2 separate regions of the Homo sapiens genome follow, and region 1 is linked to region 2. A link means that fine-mapping ties the variant in region 2 to the expression of a gene that starts in the linked region. Tissue or cell type: CD8 T cells. Region 2 holds a variant in brackets; the other region holds the start of a gene. All regions are shown on one strand. Distances are between the middles of the regions.

Region 1 (10,248 bases), 140 kb after region 2:
GAGAATCACTCCTACTACTAAGATCCTAGAAAAACTGAAGTAGAGTGCTGATGTTACTGAAGCTGAAGAAGTTAAGAACAATGAGGCCATGTTGGATGGGCCAACATGAATGTGAATGAAGATAAAGTTTTCAAAGGACTCAGCTCTCTTTATTTCATCTTTCTCTGTGGCAAAGTTAAAGAAAGGCCAGTATAATTAGATGACCTGATGTCAAAAGAGAATAAGTTATCTATTGATGGTGATAATGTTTAAAATTTTCTCTGAGTTGGGAAGGCCTAGGTTCCTATCCTGATAAGTTCACTTCTTAGATGTATACCATTGAAGTTACAAGTTACTTAACTTCTCTAGACAACATTTGATCAATAAAAGTACCTACTTCAGAAGATTATTGTAAAGATTACTTGAGATGATGCATATAAAGCGTTAAACAGTGCCTGGCACACGATTGATAATAAGTATTAGTTACTCTTACCAAAAATGGTCAAGTTGTAGCAGTACAGGTCAAGTCCTATGCCAACTGCCCCTTTTTGCCTAGTGGGTTACAAGAGCCAAAGAGATAGAAAAAAGTATAGATGACTGTAGGAGAAGCCCTGTATCTGGGGAAAGAAAGCTTTTAGTTAAGGTGAAACACCTGAATAAGCGCTTGGCAAATATAAAATAATTTGCACCCAAAGGGGCAGAAATCCATGAGTATAATGGAATGATTATTGCCCTAAAAACTCTCAAACCTAAATAATGCATCTCTCTTTAAATAACTTCTGACAGTAGTGCGTGGAAAAAGTAGAGTTAAAACATAAATAAAACCAAGCTGGGAGAAAATCAATCAACCAAATACAAAGGTGATACTGGTTCACTGGTTAAGAAACTAGCATTAGTGTCTATTACTGAGGACGAATGAAAAGAAACTAGCCAGAAAACTTGGCAAAGTTTGTTTCTAAATTTATAGATGCAAATTTACCGATTATGACCTCTTTCTCCAATGTAACAAGGGGAGTTATCCGTATCTTGATAACCTTAAGTGCTATCAAAAAGCAGGTTTCACTAAGTGTCAAAATGCAAAAATTGGTAACAAGTTAATTATTTTACATTTCTGAGGCTTCTTTTCTATTCAAAGTAATGCATTTTCATTGTAGAAAACTAGAATGAAAAAGTATACAGTTGTAAGGGGAAGCAATCTCATTACACAAAAATAAAAAAAACATTTTGCATGGACTTTCAGTCTTTTGACTGCATTTTTCATTATATCATAAGGTTATATTTTCTATACAATGTATGTCTATTTTATCACATAATACATTTTTTATATCTATTTTATCACATAATACTACGTCATAAGCACTCTATCTGCTTTACTATTAACAGTTACTAAACTAAGGGTGACGACTTTCTCTATAAAGGCCTTTACGGTTTCAGTCAACTTATTTTAGTAATAAATACGCTCCTTATGTAATTTCACAAGTTTAGGGTCAACTTTTAGGCCCCGGACCATGAGCAGCTTTTCAGAACTTCATGTGCAGCCCTAGAAGCTAATGTAAAGGGAAAAACTGCCATTATATATTTGATTTATCCAATGAGTTATGCTACTTTGAAAGTAAATTTCACATATACAAAAAGGACCAATAATATTAAAAATTGTATTCCTGTTTCTATACATGATGCTAATTTTTCCATTCTACCTTTGGTCAGGTGGTCACCTCAAGATGATCTGATGTGATTTATTTTTCCATGTACAAGCTGTAGAGTCACAACGTGACATTTTGTAGAGGGCCTATAGCTGTAGATTTTCTTCTCTGTACAAATAAGTCTGAAACTAAACTTAATTACCTTCTAAAATAACATACACAATTTTATCAAACAGGTGATGAAATAGTAATACATGTACACTTTAACATTTCTCATTCTTCTATTTCCTTTTCAATGCTTTAAGTATTTTAAAATTAGGCTTAGGCACAGTGGCTCATGACTGTAATCCCAGTACTTTGGGAGGCTGAGGCAGGAGGATCAGTTGACCCCCAGAGTTCAAGACCAGGCTGGGCAACATGGTGAGACCCCATCTCTACAAAAAAAATAAATAAATAAATAAAGCCAGGTGTGGTGGTGTGCACCTGTGGTCCCAGCTACTTGGGAGGCTGAGGCAGGGGGATTGCTTGAGCCCACGAGGTTGAGGCTGCAATGAGCCATGATTGCACCACTGCACTCCAGCCTGGACAAGAGAGAGAGAGAGACCCCATCTCAAATAAACAAACAAACAAACAAACAAACATTTAAAAATTAAGATGTGGCAGGCTGGGCACAGTGGCTAATGCCTGTAAGCCCAACACTTTGGGAGGTCAAGGCAAGAGGATGGCTTCACGCCAGTAGTTCTAGACCAGCGTAGTAGGCAACTAGCCTTGTCTCAAAAAACATTTTTTTTTAAATTAGCTAGGTATCGTGGTGCACCCTGCAATCCTAACTACTTGGGAAGCTGAGGCGGAAGATCACTTGAGTACAGGAGTTCAAGGTTGCAGTGAGCTAAGTAGGTGCCATTGTACTCCTGCCTGGACAACACGGGGAGACCTGTCTCTAAAATGTATTTATAAAAAAGTTAAAAAGATGTGCTACTAACCGGCAACTTTCAGGTTTCATTTTTTTAAACAGTAAATTATATAGCTCCTTATAATATTATCATTCATATGATATAAACATCTTAAACATACTACAAATATCCAACAGAATTCAGAACATCACACATTACTATCTGAACATGGTTCTTTTTCTTAATGTCATTTGACTCCAAACTTGCAGGCAGATTTTTTTCTACTCTTTAAGAATCTAATGTCAGAAAAGTTAACACTTTTGCAGTAAACTAAAATTAACAGAAATTTAAATGTTTAAAACAATTCCAAAGAAAGGCCGGGCACAGTGGCTCACGCCTGTAATCCCAGCACTCTGGGAGGCCAAGGCGGGCGGATCACGAGGTCAAGTGATAGAGACCATCCTGGCTAACATGGTGAAACCCCGTTTCTACTAAAAAATACCAAAAAACTAGCCGGGCGTGGTGGCAGGCGCCTGTAGTCCCAGGTACTCCGGAGGCTGAGGCAGGAGAATGGCGTGAACCTGGGAGGCGGAGCTTGCAGTGAGCTGAGATTGCGCCAATGCACTCTAGCCTGGGCGACAGACAAAGACTCCGAGGGAAAAAAAAAAATTTTTTTCAAGAGAAAAAAAAATTGCTTAAGTGATTTAACCACTTCATCACAAAAGAACTATTTAAAATTTATCAGAAATCTATATTCTGACAATTACCTTTGGGCCAAAGAACCCAAAGTACAAGACCATATGCCAAAGTAGTCTAATCAGCACTCTGAGGTAGGCCCTCCCAGTTTACAGAGGCACGTATTACAGTCTTAGGCCTCAGGCTCTTTCACCATGAATTGGTAAGAACTTTCATAACTCTAAAAGGTACATCAAGGGTTCATTAAAATACCATTAGAACACCTTGTAAAACCACTAAACAGCAAATATGTCTTCCTTGGCTAATGGGAACTGAAAGAATTGTGAATTCATGTGAAAACTGGTGCTACTGTGGAAAAGTGTCTATTCTTTTAGGGTTATCTCAAAAGTCGGAAGCATTTTTGTAGCTCAATATATGAAGCTCAAACAGTGGTTACATTCAAGTTTGGCATATTCTGAGTTTTTATCTTGTTACTGTGGTTCTGTATCAGACATCTGGTCTCTTGCATCTCACCGAGCCTCTGTTCTTCTCCAGCCAGAAAGGAAATTCAGAGGTTTCACTGAGGGGGAGAATGGGAAGCTGTTAAGAATTGTAAGAGAAAGTTCTTACAATTCCTGGCCAGCCACAGTGGTTCATGCCTATAATCCCAACGCTTTGGGAGGATCACTTGAGCGCAGGAGTTCAAGACCAGCCTGGGCAACATGGCGAAACTCCGTCCCTACTAAAAATACAAAAATTGGACGGGCGTGGTGGCACATGCCTGTAATCCCAGCTACTCGGGAGGCTGAGGTGGGAGGATCACCTGAGCCCAGGAGGTCGAGACTGCAGTGAGCAGTGTGACTGGGCCACTGCACTCCAGCCTGGGCGACAGAGACCCTGTCTCAAAAAAAAAAAAAAAAAAAAAAAAGGGCGGGGGGCCAAGGGGCTCAAATCCTAACCCACTATTTTTTTTTTAAGCAAAGATTAGAAAAAATTAATGCCAAGGTTTTTTTTGTTATTAATCCTCAGTATGATCTTGCTAAACGATGCATTGTTACAACTCTCAAACTTTCAGTTTGAGGAAGACAACGGCAGTGCCCCCACAAATCAACCAATTTTTCAATTAAAGAGGAGTCCTGGTGTGATAGAAAGTTAAGGAATTAGGAACAACTGATAACAACTTTCTAGGTCTTGCTGGGAATATCCTGATTCACTCATCCAAGGGGCCTCATGTCCCTCGTGCGGAGTATGAAAGACTGTATTAGATCTCCGTGGATCTTCATCCTGGCTCTAAAAACTGCCTCTTTGTAAGTTCATGGCTAGCTTCCACAATTTACCATGGTATGAGAGGAGGGAGGCAGGATTAATTCTGCCCACAATCTTGAGGACGCTGAACGTGTTTTGGTTCATAATTTGACAAAAATGACATTTTTTTAGGTTACAGTAGAGGGGGGAAGCCCGTCTTGCTGGTCAAGGGTGACTGAAACTTTGCTGAAAGACTTACTGCCTGGCTTGTACAGCCACCGCTTGTGTAATAAGGCCATCCCCTCGGACTCAGGTGGTTAAACATCAGGCCCTGCTGCCCAAGTGTGTCCCCAACCCAAGGTGCACCCTGGGGGCGCTGAAAGACCAGGGGTCGCTGGGGTGAGTGCGGGTTGCTCCTGGAGTTGGGCGCTCCAAACGTCCTCGGAGTCCTAACTCCAAAGCAGCATGCCGGGGTCCCAAATACTCTCTTCTCTTCAGCCCAAGCTCTTCCCCACCTCTTCCTAAATCCCGAAAAGGGCGCTGAACCCGTTCATCAGGAGCCCGGGAGAAAGGGAGGGAAGGCAGAGGGGGGTACTCGCGGAGTGAGTGGCGGCCGCAGAAAAGGACAGGCCTTTAGTACCAGCCAAAATATTGTTTTTTAAGCCCCAGCCCAACCGCAGGGCCTCCCGAGAAAAGACTTCTTCGGCCGTCTGGACAGAAGAAGCGAGCGGCCGAAAGAAGGACAAGGGGGAGGAGGCGTGAGGTCCTTACCCGCTGCAAAGCTGCCGGCTGCCGGCCGCAGCCGCCGGCTCCAGTACCGGAGACCGGAGGCAGCTCCGAGGAGCCGTAAGGAGGCTGCCATGCTGCGCCCGCCCCTCTCCCCGCGGTGACCTCCGCCGCCTCCCGGAGGGCCCACAGACTGCGAGCGTGTGCAGCGGGACTGGCTGGCTCGCCCACGGAGAAGGGCGCGCGCGCACGCGCTCTCACCGCTCGGGGGCGGGTGCCCACGCGCGAGGGAAGGAGCGCGGAGCCGAGAGGAGCGGCCTGACGCGGCAGGGCCTGTCAATCCCTTTACGGACAGGGAAGCAGACCAATCAGAATTCCCAGGTCCGCAGCTGTGCGAAGGACCAATAAGAGGCCTTTTTGAACAGTGACGCCAGGCGCCCTGGCGCTGCCCCCAAGCTCGTGCCTCATTTACAGCCTGCGGGCGGGAGTCTCCTTGTTTACCAAAGCAGAGGGCGTGTGGGAGGCGGGGGCCGTCGCTCGCTCCCGCCTCCTCGGAAACCTTGTCCCCACAACCGCTGCGTGTTAAAAAGGACAAAACTGACTCGCAGCTTGAAAAACACTCAGAAAGCTACCATGTGTGTAATAACTTTTAAATTCATTTGATTTTACTTAACACAACAGTTTCTCAATACTAAAAATAGTAGGAAAAGAAGTTGGTAACATTATCTTTGAAGGGAAGAGTTACTAGAAACTTGCACTTTCTATTTCAAGGCATATTTCTCTAATCTTTGAAAATTCTACACCCTAAATCCATTTTGTAAGCAAAACTAAATATAAAATCCAGAAAGTAGTAGTATATGTATGTGTATTAGAAAGACCTTTTTTTTTTTTGGAGACGGAGTCTCTCTGTCACCCAGGCTGGAGTGCAGTGGCGCGATCTCGGCTCACTGCAATCTCCGCCTCCCGGGTTCAAGTGATTCTCCTGCTTCAGCCTCCGGAGTAGGTGAGGTGGGACTATAGGCCTGCGTGCGCCACCACACCCGGCTAATTTTTTTGGCACTTTGAGTAGAGGCGGGGTGTCGCCATTTTGCCTAGGCTGGTCTCAAACTCCTGGCGTCAAGTGATCCGCCCGCCTCGGCCTCCCAAAGTGCTGGTTATTACAGGCGTGAGCCACTGCGCGGTGCAGAGAGACAGACATTTAGTCATTCTTCTGTCAATGCTTAGTGTACATATTTGAGTCTGTAAACCCCTTGGGGGTAATTGCAGGCCTTCTCATCTCCACTGACTCCACCAAAGGGTTGGAAGCCATGACCACACCAAAGCAAGACTATAGCCTTTGGAGAATGGCAATACAGCAGGAAAGAGAATGTGTATGGAGTAGCTAGGGAAATGCGAACCCCAATCTAAGTAGCACAATCAACAAAATTTGACTTTGACCTTTTTTTCAACTCAGTAACCCATGGAGTTGAAAGCAAAGGAATTGGATCATTTCCATCTGGGCTCTTTTCATGTTTCTGGGCATGCTGGCAACGTTTCCAAAAACTTAAAAACTTGTACAGAGTGCAAGGTCCCTATCTGTAACTGGGAGGAAGTTAATGCCCTTCTTTGACCATCACTCCACCCCAACCCTCTACCCAACACTAAATGAAAAGAAGGAAGGAAAGGGACGAAGGGAGGGAGGGAGAAAAAACTCATTTCAACAATTAGACCTTCTCCTAGATTTGGGTCCCCACCCCTACTAGGGGTAAATTAGTTTCTGGAGCATTTCCCACCTGTGCCTCTCTTCCTGGTTTCGTCAGGTTTTAGCTGGAATAGATCTCCTGCAGGCAACAAATGTGGGCCTACAGGTTTCTTTTTCTTTTTCTTCCTCCAGCACTACAGGTTTCTATAATTAACTCCTGAACTGCAATTGGTCTTTCAACTGTGTCTCCTCCAAGAAGCCCTGCATTGTCTTCTCCAACAATGTCTCCTCCAAGAAGCCCTACATTGATTCATAAACTAAGGAATTTTCATAGGTTTCCATGATTTTAAAGAAGCGTTATGAATTTTTAAGTAATTCTTACTGTTTGAAGGTGCTTGCAGATATTATTGTACTGGCAAATGCAGTTCCTGCCTATGGCTGGTTAGCTTTCTTCATTTGATTGCCCTCCTGATGCCCTTGTTTGAAAGGCACTGCAACTCCTCCCTGAGTCTTTGCCACGCATTTTTGTTTGTAATTGTTTCAATGCCTTATAGTGGCCCCTGACTTCCGCTTCCAGGAAGATGGAGTAGATAGGTTTCTCCCTATTCTTCTAAGTACAACTAAAAACTCAACATTATATATAAGATAAACATAGGGAGACTTTGAAAGGTGGAGAGAAGTCACACTGGCTAGGGTCCAGAGAGCAACACGGTGGGAAGTTCCTTGGGTTTTCATGTAGCCTTATATACCCCAAACTGGGTGCTGGAGAAGCCAAAACCAGAAACCCCAAAATGCCAGGAAGCATAGATAGACAAAAAGTGCCCCAATAAAAGGCTGCTCTTTCTAGCCAAGTGATGAAAAAGGAGTGGCCTAGCAAGAAAGGAAACATTTAGAAGATAATCACTCCACTGTAGACAAACAATACACACATACATACACACACTGACCCCACCCCATAAAGCAAAGGCTGAGTTGGGAGCCTAGACTTCCACACTCTCCAGGTTGTGATGAGACACCCCAGCATCCTAACACCCCAATCGCTCTACTCCTCAACCCCTCTAAGGTGATGTCAGAGAAAACCAAAGAGAGGTATGGGATTTTCATCTTCAACTGGGCAGTAACAAGTAATCCTCCACACACATCCTTCCCTACTCTCAGTGTCACTGGAAACCACAGGGCGACCCTGGATTTCCACTCCTACCTTACAGTGGTGAGGTACCCCTCCCTTTCCCTGCTTAGATGGTGTAATTGGAGGTGTATTGGAGAGTCAGAGCTTTCATCACTGCCCAATGGTAAGGATGTCACACCCCTTCCCCTCCATGGTGTCACTGGAGGCTACATGGGGGCAGTAAGGAGCCATTCCAAGCCCTCTCAACTAGGGAAGTATCAGTGGACAACTAGTGGGGAGCTGAAACTCCCACCATTGCCCAGCAGTAACAAGGAACCACCCACCCTTGGTGTCAACAGAGGTGGAATAAGGAACCTAGACTTCTACTACCAGTTGCCATTTACAAGTTGATGCCCCCTGCCAGAGCAGTGTCAAGAAAAACTAGTTAAAATAAAAGGTTTAAATAATATCCAAAATATCATAATACCCAAATGTCCAGATTTCAACAAAAAATCACTCATGATACCAAATTTCAATTAAAAAATGACTCATGATTCCAAAACCCAGGAAGATTTCAAGCTGAATAAAAAAGACAATAGATGCCAACACTGAGATGACAAGTTAAAATTATCTAACAAAGATTTGAAAGCATCCATCAGAAAATATTTCAAGAAGCAATTAAAACATGCTTGAGGCCAGGCATGGTGGCTCACACCTGTAATCTTAGCACTTTGGGAGGCCGAGGCTGGCAGATCACTTGAGGTGAGGAGTTCAAGATCAGCCTGGCCAACATGGTAAAACCCCATCTCTTCCAAAAAAATACAAAAATTACCCAGGTGTGGTGGTGGGCACCTGTAATCCCAGCAACTCAGGAGGCTGAGGCAGGAGAATCACTTGAACCCAGGAGGCGGAGGTTGCAGTGAGCTATCACGCCACTGCACTCCAGCCTGGATGGCAGAGTGAGACTCCTTCTCAAAAAGTAAAATAAAACAATAAAACATGCTTGAATTAAATAAAAAGAAATCTCAGCAAAGAAACAACATATAAAGAAGAAATAAATGGAAATTTTAAAACTGAAAAAATGCAAGAAATACAATTTTTTAACTCAACAGCAGAATAAAGAAAAGAATCACTGAGCTAGAAGATAGAACAGTAGAAACTATCTAATCTAAACAGAGAGAAACTAGACTGGGATTTAAAAAGCTACGAAGCGCTGGGCGAGGTGGCTCAAGCCTGTAATCCCAGCACTTTGGGAGGCCAAGGCGGGCGGATCACGTGGTCAGGAGATCGGGACCATCCTGGCTAATACGGTGAAACCCCGTCTCTACTAAAAATACAAAAAAATTAGCCAGGTGTGGTGGCGGGCGCCTGTAGTCCCAGCTACTCGGGAGGCTGAGGCAGGAGAATGGCGTGAACCCAGGAGGTGGAGCTTGCAGTGAGCCGAGATTGTGCCACTGCACTCCAGCCTGGGCGACAGAGCGAGACTCCGTCTCAAAAAAAAAAAGCCACGAAGCTCAGGGGCATGTGTTGTGACTCTTAACAAAAGATCTAACATTCAGCTGGGTGTGGTGGCCCACGCCTGTAATCCCACTTTGGGAGGCCCAAGCAGGTGGATCACCTGAGGTCAGGAGTTCAAGACCAGCCTGGCCAACATGGTGAAACCTCGTGTCTACCTAAAATACAAAAATCAGCTGGGCATGGTGGTGGGCGCCTGTAATCCCAGCTACTCAGGAGGCTGAGGCAGGAGAATCGATTGAACCTGGGAGCAGGAGGTTGCAGTGAGCCGAGATCGCGTTACTGCACTCCAGCCTGGACAACAAGAGTGAAACTCCGTCTCAAAAAAAAAAAATCTAACATTCCTGTCATCAGAATCTCAGAATCTGGGAAGAAGAGGAATAAGACTTTCCCAACAATACCCACACTATCTAATCATTTTTACGCCTATTCCTAAGATATCATTCTCTCTGTACTCACCTCCCTGACAATGCAGTACTCTTTCCCTTTCCCAGAGCACTCTGAGTTCCTCAGGTTCTCTGCTTTTCTTCTTTCCTTCCTTTCTCTTTTCCACACATTCTAATACTGCTTCTACACTCCCCACTTGTTAGGACTCAACTCAAAGTGACTTTCCTCAAGAAGTCTTTTTCTGAATAATATATAAGCAGTCATAAAAACAATCCAGTTTGATTAAGAAACTACATTTAAAGTCACTTTCAAAAACTATCAGCATCAGGTTTGGTTGGATAAAACAAAGTCCAAATGATAACAATTTGGTTTTTCCTCTCATAAAAGTAGTGTGGA
Region 2 (10,248 bases):
AACGCTTATTGAGCTCTTAATGCTAGGTGCTGAACTCAACGCAAACCTCAAAGCTGATACGACACATTCTGTGCCGTCCAGCTCACAGTCTGGTGAGGAAGACAAATGAGCAAAGCTGCAAATATAATGTAACAGGGCAAGTCCTATGATGAGAAAGATGTCAACAAACTGCTGTGAAAACAGAGTGGAAACGACTGAGTCTGAAGTTGCTGAGGAAGGCTTTTTAGAAGACAACAGTGCTGAACCGGTCACGGTGCCAGAAGGGGCGGCATTCCAAATGGAAGAAATGGCATGTGCAAATGTACTGAGGTGTGCAAAGCATGGCACGTTTGGGAAAAGACAAGTATTGTGGGCAGTGGTGCTGGTGAAATAGAAGCCCCAGCAGGATGGCTTTGGAGACCAGACTGTATCCTAGGCTCAAACATTCTAAACAGGGTTGGCCGGATTGGATTTCAGTCTTAGAAAGACCTCTCTTGCAGCAGTGCTCAGCAATTGGGAAATAAAACCAGGCTGGTGGCCAAGAAGCAGCTTTAAATCTAGAGTCAGAAAGCTTAGTAGCTGCCAATGGCTGGGGGCCGGGAGAATGAGCAGTGATTACAAATGGATGCACGGGATTTTGCAGGGGTGATGGAATGTTCTAAAACTGAATTGTGGTGAGGGTTGTAAAACTCTCAGTTTACGAAAAGCCATTCATTGTATAAAAGGAGCAAATTTCATTGTATGTACACTATACCTTTAAAAAGCTGTTAGGGAAAATAAAAGGTGTCGCTGCAGATACTGAAGTGCCCTAGATCAGGGGTCTCCAACCCCCGGGCTGAGGACCAGTACTGACCTGGTCCGTGGCCTGTTAGGAACTGGGTTGCGGGGCAGGTGAGTGGCCAGCCGGTGAGCAAGCATTACTGCCTAAGCTCTGCCTCCTGTCAGATCAGCAGCTGCATTACATTCTCATAGGATCCTGAACCGTATTGCGAACTGCACATGTGAGGGATCTAGGTTGTGTGCTCCTTACAAGAATCGAATGCCTGATGATCTGAGGTGGAACAGCTTCATCCCAAAACCATTCCTCCAACCACCACCCATGGAAAAACTGTCTTCCACAAAACCAGTCCCTGGTGCCAAAAATGTTGGGGACTGCTGCCCTAGATAAGAACTGGTGAGGGCCTATAATAGGCACTAGAGATTTAGAATTAGCTAAGGAGAATGGGTGGAGGAATGGAGGAGTCAGGGATGGGTCCTGAAAGCCTGGGAGGAGTCGTGGGATAGGACCAGAAGGAGAAGCAGGGCTTTGGGGGAAAATGAGGAGCTCAGGTTTTGATATGCTGAGTTCAGGTCTTGTGGAACATACACCTAGAGCAGCGTTTCTTAAACTTTGCCTGACTGGCATTTTGGGCAGGATAACTATTGTTGTGGGTGCTGTCCCGTGCATTATAAGAGGTTTAGCAACATTCTTGGCCTCTGCCCACTAAATGCCAGTAAAATGGACAACCAAAAATGTCTCCAGCCATTGCCATGTGTCCCCCCTGGCAAGCAAAACTGCCACAGTTGAGAACCACTTATCAAAAGATCTTAACTCATGATATTTTCCTTAGGCTTTTTAAAAATTGAGAGGTAATTCACTATTTACAAGTATACAACTCAGTGATTTTAAAATATATCCACAAAGTTGTGAACCACCACTATTAATTCCAGAACATTTTCATCACTCCCCCCAAAAAACTCCATATCCGTTAGCAGTCACTCCCCATTTCCCCCTCTCCAGTCCTTGGAAACCACTCATCTACTGTCTGTATGGATTTGCCTATTATCCAATACTTCAAATAAGTAGAATCATACAATATGTGGCCCTTTGCATCTGCCGCCTTTCACTTGGTATGTTTTTAAGTTCATCCATGTGGTAGCATGGATCAGTACTTTATTCCTTCGTATGGCCAAGCAATCTTCCATTGTGCAGATATGACAGTTTGTTCATCCAATCATCAGTTGGGGGATATTTGGATTGTTTCCACTTTTTAGCTATTATGAATAATGCTGCTATGAACATTTGTGTACAAGCTTTGTGTGGATATATTTTTTTCCTTATGCATCTAGGAGTGAAATTGCTGGATCATGTGCCAACACTGTTTAACCTTTTGAGGAACTACCGAGCTATTTTCCAAAGTGGCTGCACCATTTTATATTCCCAGCAGCAATGTATAAGGGTTCCAGTTTTTCCATATGCTGCTATCATGTGTGATTGTCCTTATATCTTTTGTTTTCATTTCCAGAAAGCATTTAATATTAAGCTAGATGGTTTATGACAACTTCATAGATGAGAAAATGAATGGTCAGTAGAGGGTGGCTTGTACAGGGTCACACTCAGAGGTAATTCCTTTCCAGCACAAATATTTTGTTCGTGTTGAAAACTGTATAATTGATTACAATTCTATTCTATCCTTCACGTAAGATGCTGACGGGCTGAAATGTGATCTGATCTGTTTTTGCTGGTTCCTTTAATTTGCAGAGATTTGGCCACAGTTAAACCCCTTCCCTCTCAACTACTCGAAAGGCAGCATTTAGCAAGTAGCCTCTCTGTTGTGCCATTACTTCCCCTCGTTACTGGATCATTCCACTTCCATCCGTATAATCCCATAACATTTCCTATTTTAAAAATATAATAAAACTCCTCCTGGTCCCTTATTTGCTGCCAATGTCTATCCCATTTGTCTGTTTTCCTCTGCAGCAAAGCTCTTCAAGAATTCTCTATACTTACTGTTTCCAATTCCTCTCCCACTCTCAATCCAACTCTCATTTCCAAGACTCCACCAAAACTCTTGAAAAAGTCACCAGTGATAGCTCTTTTGCCAAATCCAAATGATTCTCAGCCCTATTACTCAACTCACAGATCATCATTCCCTCCTTAAAATACTGTTTTCATTTGGCTCCTGGGACACTGCTCCCATGTTTTTCCCCTACTTTACTGATCTCTCTGCTTCAGTCTCATTTGCTTGTCCCCCCTCATTTTCCTAACCACTAAAGTTACAGTAACACAGGGCTCAGTCCTTGGACTGTTGTTCTTCTTTACTTAGATGTCTATTAAGGCATCTCATATAAATCTCTGATTTTTTTCTCCTAAACTTCCTACAATCCTCCCCAAATCTTCCCCCCATGATCTTCCCCATATAGGAAATGGCAACTTCTTTCTTCTGCTTTCTCAGGCCACTGACAGTGGGATTATCCCTGACTCCCTACTTTCTCTCTCATGCCATCCATCAGTTAGTGGCTCTGTTTTCTAGGTTCAGAATCTAACCACTTCTTGCCTCCTCCATCATTTTAACATTCTGGTCCCAGCTACCACCTCTCAACTGGGTTATTACTATTGCCTCCGAATTGGTCTCCTTGTTTCCAGCCTTGCTCCTACAGACTCTTCTCCACACAGCATCCAGAGTGATCCCTTTAAAAAAGTAGGTCAGATCACATCAATCTGGTGAAAAAGTTTCACAGGCTGCTTGTGATAGGCTGTTTGCAAAAAGGCCACCATAATGCCCCTCTTTGTGTCCACACTCTTATGCAGACCCCACATATGCTGATTCTGGGCTTGGCTATGACATTTGCTGTGGCCAAGGGGAAAGTACAAACATGAAGCAAGCAGAGGCTTAGAAAGTCAGGGCTTGTCCTATGCTGCTGCTGGGATGCTTCCACCACTATGTGAACAAATTCATACCAGCCTCCTGGAGAATGCATGAAAACATGGAGAGAAGCCCCAACCATTCCAGCTGTCCCAGCTGAGTAAAGCCAAACTAGACACTCTAGCTGCAGATGAGCTGGTCTAGGCCAGAATAATAATATGGCCAACCCACAGAATCTTGAAAAACAATACATGTTTGTTGTTTTAAGCCACTAAATTTTGGGGTGATTTGTTATCCAGCAAAAGCTAACTGATACATTGCCCATTTTGCTCAGAATAAAAGCCAGTGTCCTAACATACCCTGCAAGGCCCCATATGATCTGGCCACCCTCATTCTGTGCCACTTCACTTATAGCCTCCCTGTTATTCCTCATATTCAGTACTGTCCTACCTCAGGGCCTTGGTACTTTCTGTCCCCTTTGCCTGGAATGTTTGTTCCTCAGATACCTGCATTGCTTACTCCCTTACCTCTGCTCAATTGACACCTTATTGGGGAGAACTTTCCTTATCACCCTAAGAAAATACCCCTGGCACTCCCTATCCATCCCCGTTATCCTGCTTTTTCTTTTTAGTTCTTCTTATCTGAAAAATACATATTTCTTGTCTGTCACAAACACATGAGACACCAGAACTTATGCTCTGCAAGGGCAGAAATCTTGTGTCTTGTTCATCACTGTATCCCCAGCACTTATAACAGTGCCTGGAATTTTTTATCACCAGTAAAATGATGAAAGTAGTAATACTTCTGCCAAATTTGGTGTCTAGGTCTATTACCTGGAATGTTTCTAGAGGCTGAGGTGGGAAAAGTGGTGACTGTGCTCCATATTGGGGCATGTTACACTTAATGCTGGCTGAATTCCTAGAGAACTGATGACCTAAAAAACATTCAAACGAATACTCAATAAGGATTCAGGTAAAGCAGCAAAACACTAGCTTGCCACTGGCCAACTCAGAGCTTTGTTCCTTTTGACCTCCCCTCCTTTCTCTTTATTCCCATCCTTTCCCCATTAGTGTGAACATCAGTTTGTCAGAACATTAGTTCACCAAATGATGGGGAAGAAACAAAAACACCAAGAAAGTATTACCAGTATAGAAATTTATTTGAATTCAAAATAATATGGCTATATTTATAATAATATAATAATTATCTAAAGCAAATATCATCATTGGCTCTGAAATGCATCTAAAGATGTCATTCTTAAGTCAAAAAATACGTAGTAAGAATGAACAAGAAAGAAAAAAATATAAAAACAAGTCTGCTGAGTGTCGGGAGTTGGTGAGGGATATCCTACCATATTGTGACGGAGTCCAAATAGAAAACATGCAGCAACAGTTCTCCTGCTTTATCAGCTCCCTGGAAAATAAACCAGTAACCCTGGTAGTGCAGTAACCATTTGGTTAACAGGACAAACTTCCTGATGGACACAGATAGTAATTCACTGCATTTCCCTTCTCTAACTTCTCTCTTCACACCAATTCCTTTTCTTTCCTTTAAGATGGGTTTCATCCTGTTGACAAAAGATTTGGTTTTATTTGTAAAGTAAAGCAGATAATATCCTGATTGAAGTATTCAATGATTTAGTTGAGGATGCTTGGGGATCAAACTTTGTAAAAAGGTCAATTAAGCTAGTTAGCAGAGACTATCAGTGGCTTGCAGAAAAAAAATTCGGATAATATGTTTGTTAAAAAGACAAAAAGAATAAGCGGTGAAAAATCCTAGGGATTACTGTGACCTAGACAATCAAAAGCAGATAGGTGACCTTTGATTAAATCCATTTACTTGTGGAGTGAGCTAAAAGGAGGCTCCAAGACAGAGTTTGGTTCCCAACAGTGTCCGTGGCCAAAGGGCACACTCAGAAGGTCTCCTCCTCTCGTAGGAACTGGAACACGGATGAGAAGTCTTTCTTTGAGTAGCCCTTTGCACACATCATCCTGTAGATCTGATGGGCCAGACTGCCAAGAAGGATTGGGCTCTTTGTGCTGGTAGCAGAGTCTTGTGCCAATCCCAGATCCTAAATCAAACAGGAGGAGAGAACACGCTGAGACTGGTGGTAAAGGCTCTTTGGAACTGTGGTTCCTTATGTTTTGGTTTGAAAGAAGGAAAAATGTAATCTGAAAAAATAAGATACTTATAAATACTATGGTAAGTTAACATTTTTAAATAAGCGCTTTCATATAACTGCAAAATTGCTCCAGACAGAAACCTTGATTTCTGAGTGTCTCTTCGATTTTTCCACCTTCCACAATACCTGTTTGTTTTGTTCCACAGATTTGAAGAAAAAAAATTTCCCTGTGTAATCTTATCTGTGGAAATCTTTAAGACATAAATTTTTTT[T/A]AAAAAATTCTTAAATGAAAACAAGGAGAAATAAAACTGCAAAACAGGAAATACAGTTGCAAATATTACTTCATCCAATAAATATTTGAAGTGTGCTGACAATGTGCCAGAAGCTGGGATAAAATGATGAGCAAAACAGCCACAGCCCACCCAAACTCACATTGTGTTAAGGAGAAAGACAATTAAATAAGCATGGTATAATTGGATAGGAGGAGTACTATCATGGGATCCAAGGAAGCAGGGTCTGGGGTGCTGGGAAAGGTGAAGAAAAAGAAGACAGTGAAGCACAGACCTGGAGCCAGGTGAAAACATGGGGGTGGCAGGGAGGTGGTGGGCAAGGAAGAATGATCCATCCTGGCAGACAATGTGACAGCAAATGTGAAGCAAATGTGAAGGTTTCCAAGAGACAGAACAAGAGGGAGAAGTGAGTTCAGCACGATGAAAGCAAGGAGAGGGGGATGGGAAAGAAAATCAGTCTGGTTGAGGCAAGCAAAAGCCAAGGCATCTGGGGGCTTGTCAGACAAGTTGCAGGGATGGACTTTAATCTCCAAGTAACTGAAACTACAAAAGCTTCAAAGGAGAAGTGACACAATCAGGATTTTACATTTTAGAAAGCTCACTCTTGCTTTGATATGGAAAATAAACTGGAGAAGATCAGGCTGAAAGACAAGATCAGTTAAGATGTATTTGTGGTACAACACAAACGAGGCTCAGCCAAGGTACAGCTAGCTGGGGAGGAGGGAGCTGGATGAATTCAAGGCATATTCAAGAAGCAGAATGAACAAACGTCATGGGGAATGAGGGAGAGTAAGCCAAGTATGGGCACATCTTGTCTTAGTGTGCTTCACTTTATCATGCTTCACAGATAATGCATGTTTGTTTTTGTATTTTAATAATTGAAGGTTTGTGGCAATCCTGCATTGAGCAAGTCTATCAGCACTGTTTTTCCAACAGCATGTGCCCAGTTCATGCAGCTGTCACATTTTGGTAATTCTCACAATATTTCAAACTTTTTCATTACTATTATTTCTGTTACGGTGATCTGCAATCAATCAGTAACTTTTTTTTTTTTGAGACGGAGTTTCTCTCTTGTTGCCCAGGCTGGAGTGTAGTGGCGCAATCTTGGCTCACAGCAACCTCTGCCTCCTGGGTTCAAGTGATTCTCCTCCCGCAGCCTCCTGAGCAGCTGGGATTACAGGCATTTGCCACCACCACACCCAGCGTTTTTTTTTTTTTTTTTTTTTTTTAGTAGAGACAGGGTTTCACCATGTTGGCCAGGCTGGTTTCAAACTCCTAACTTCAGGTGATACACCTGCCTCGGCCTCCCAAAGTGCTGGGATTACAGGCATGAGCCACTGTGCCCAGCCGATCAGTGATCTTTGATGTTACTATTGAAACTGTTTTGGGGTGTCAGAAAGCGCACATAAGATGGCAAACATAATCGATAAATGTGGTACACATGTGTTCTGACTGCCCAGCCACTGAATGGCAGCTCTCTCTCTCTTACCCCTCAGGCCTCCCTATTCCCTGAGACACAAAATATTGAAATTAGGCCAATTAATAACCCTACAATGGCCTCTTAAGTGTTCAAATGAAAAGAGGAGTCAGCTGTCTCACACTTTAAATCAAAAGCTAGAAATGATTAAGCTTAGTGAGGAAGGCATGTAGAAAATCAAGACAGGCTGAAAGGCAGGCCCATTAAAACAAACAGTAGAATGCAAAGAAAAAATTCTTGAAGAAAATTACAAATGCTATTCCAGTGAACACATGAATGATAAGTGAAACGGCCTTACTGCTGATAGGGAGTAAGTTTGAGTGGTCTGGATAGATCAAACCAGCCAAAACATTCCCTTAAACCAAAGCTTAACCCAGAACAAGGCCCTAACTTTCTTCAATTCTGTGAAGGCTGAGAGAGGTGAGGAAGCTGCAGAAGACGTGTGAAGCTAGTAGTGATTAGTTCATGAGGTTTAAGCAAAGAAGCCATCTCCATAACATAAAAGTGGAAGGTGAAGCAGCAACTGCTGATGGAGAAACTGCAGGAAGTTAGTTATCCAGAAGATCCAGCTATCACTGATGAGGGTAGCCACACTAAACAACAGATTTTCAGTGTAGATGAAACAGCCTGCTGTTGGAAGATATCATCTAGGACTTTCGCAGCTAAAGAGAAGTCAATGTCTGTTTCCAAAGCATCAAAGGACAGGCTAACCCTCTTGTTAAGGGCCAGTGCAGCTGGGGACTTGAAGTTGAAGCCAATGCTCATTTACCATTCCAAAAATCCTAGGGCCCTTAAGAATTATGCTGAATCTACTCTGCCTGTGCTCTCCAAATGGAACAGCAAAGTCTAGAAGAAAGCACATCTGTTTATGGGATGGTTTACTGAATATTTATTTTAAGCCCACTGTTGAGACCTACTGGTCAGAAGAAAAGATTCCTTTCAAAATACGACTGCTCACTGACAGTACACGTGGTCACCCAAGAGTGCTGATGGAGATGTACAGGGAGATTAATGTTGTTTTCATGTCTATGAACACAACATCCATTCTGTAGCCCATGGATCAAAGAGTCATTTTTCAACTCTTATGTGAGAAGTATTTCATAAGGCAATAGCTACCATATATAGTGATTCCTCTGACAGCTCTGGGCAGAGTAAACTGAAACCTTATGAAAATAATTCACCATTCTAGATGCCATTAAGAATATTTGTGATTCATGGGAGGAGGTCAAAATATCAACATTAACAGGAGTTTGAAAGAAGCTGATTCCAATGCTCATGGATAACTTTGAGGCCTTTAAGACTTCAATGGAGAAAGTCACTGCAGACGTGGTGGAAATAGGAGAACTAGAATTAGAAGTGGAGCCTGCAGATGTGACTGAATTACTACAATCTTGTGCTAAACTTGAAGGGATGAGGAGTTGCTTCTTATGGATGAGCAAAGAAAGTGGTTTCTTGAGATGGATCTACTCCTGGTGAAATGACAGAAAGGATTTAGAATATTACACAAACTTAGTTGATAAAGTAGCATCAGGGTTTGAGAGGATTGCCTCCGTTTTTGAAAGAAGTTCTACTGTGGGTAAAATGCTATCAAACAGTAGCACATAAATCTTCTGTGAAAGGATGAGTAAATCAATGCAGTAAACTTAAACTTCATTACTGTCCTATTTTAAGAAATTGTCATAGCCACCCAACCTTCAGCAACCGCCACCCTGGTCAATCACCATTCATCAACCTCAAGGCAAGACCTTCCACCAGCAAAAAAGGACTATATGACTCACTGAAGGCTCAGATAATTGTTAGCTTTTTTAGCAATAGAGCATTTTAAAATTAAGATACGTATATTGTTTAGACATAATGCTAATGCACACTTAATAGACTATGGCATAGTATAAACGTAATTTTTATATGTACTGGGAAACCAAAAAATTTGTGTGACTTGTTGTGGTTGTCTGGAACTGAACCCACAATATCTCCAAGGTATGCTTGTGTGGTATCTAGGTATATGTATTCTTTTTCTTTTTTTTTTTCTATTTGAGACGAAGTCTCACTCTGTTGCCCAGGCTGGAGTGCAATGGTGCTATCTCAGCTGACTGCCATCTCCACCTCCCGGGTTCAAGCGATTCTCCTGCCTCAGCCTCCTGAGTAGCTGGGCTTACAGACACGCACCACCACGCCCGACTAATTTTTTTTATTTTTAGTAGAAACTGGGTTTCACCATGTTAGCCAGGCTGGTCTCGAACTCCTGACCTCAGGTGATCTGCCCTCCTCGGCCTCCCAAAATGCTGGGATTAAAGGCATGAGCTATCGCGCCTGGCCGTATTCTTACTTTTTAATCAGGAAAAACAAACAAACAAACAAACAAACAAAAACCAACCCTCAACTGGGAGAAAATAAGCACTGCAGAAATCTGAAAGTTAGCTGGTCTAAAAATTATTTTCTGTAGTTGAGAACATAGACTTTCTAAAGTTGAGATCTCAAATAAGAGAAGGATGACAGTTTGCTTTTCCAATGACTTAACTAGTTTTTATATATAAATCCATATATTAAAATCTTAAAGCAGGAAGATGTATTTGGAAATCTATTATCAATGGGAAAATCCTCTCTTCGTGATGCATATATGCACTGCCAGTGTATTATTAACAATGAGAAAATTCTCACTGTTCTCATTTAAGAAGTTGGTAAATTAACATAAATTAATGGTGAACGAAATTTTACCGGCTCATATAAATAAACCCAAGTGCGCACACACACACA

Direction of the effects. Alleles are on the strand shown, and positions count from the first base shown. SD is a standard deviation of normalised expression in the study named.
For the expression in CD8 T cells of the gene that starts at base 5,392 in region 1, A is the high allele of the variant in region 2 and T is the other (moderate effect, 0.45 SD a copy in CEDAR).

What was found. PIP is the estimated chance that this variant, and not a neighbour inherited with it, causes the effect.
Region 1: HIBADH starts here. The variant in region 2 is fine-mapped to the expression of HIBADH in CD8 T cells (CEDAR, PIP 0.95). The same link has a PIP of 0.9 or more in CD4 T cells.

The regions. Positions count from the first base shown.
Region 1 is chr7:27,657,492-27,667,739 of GRCh38, forward strand. HIBADH (3-hydroxyisobutyrate dehydrogenase) reads right to left here and starts at 5,392. Exons shown (of 8, transcript NM_152740.4): 1 at 5,207-5,392. The coding sequence starts at 5,297. The region is part of intron 2 of LOC105375211 (a long non-coding RNA gene); the gene reads left to right. RefSeq lists an enhancer at 5,129-5,946 and a silencer at 5,162-5,581.
Region 2 is chr7:27,520,697-27,530,944 of GRCh38, forward strand. HIBADH (3-hydroxyisobutyrate dehydrogenase) reads right to left here. Exons shown (of 8, transcript NM_152740.4): 8 at 4,746-5,676. The coding sequence ends at 5,518. Among named protein-coding and RNA genes, the nearest start is that of TSL, 90 kb to the right of the region's middle. RefSeq lists an enhancer at 6,312-6,889. The variant T/A (reference allele first, on the strand shown) is at 6,000.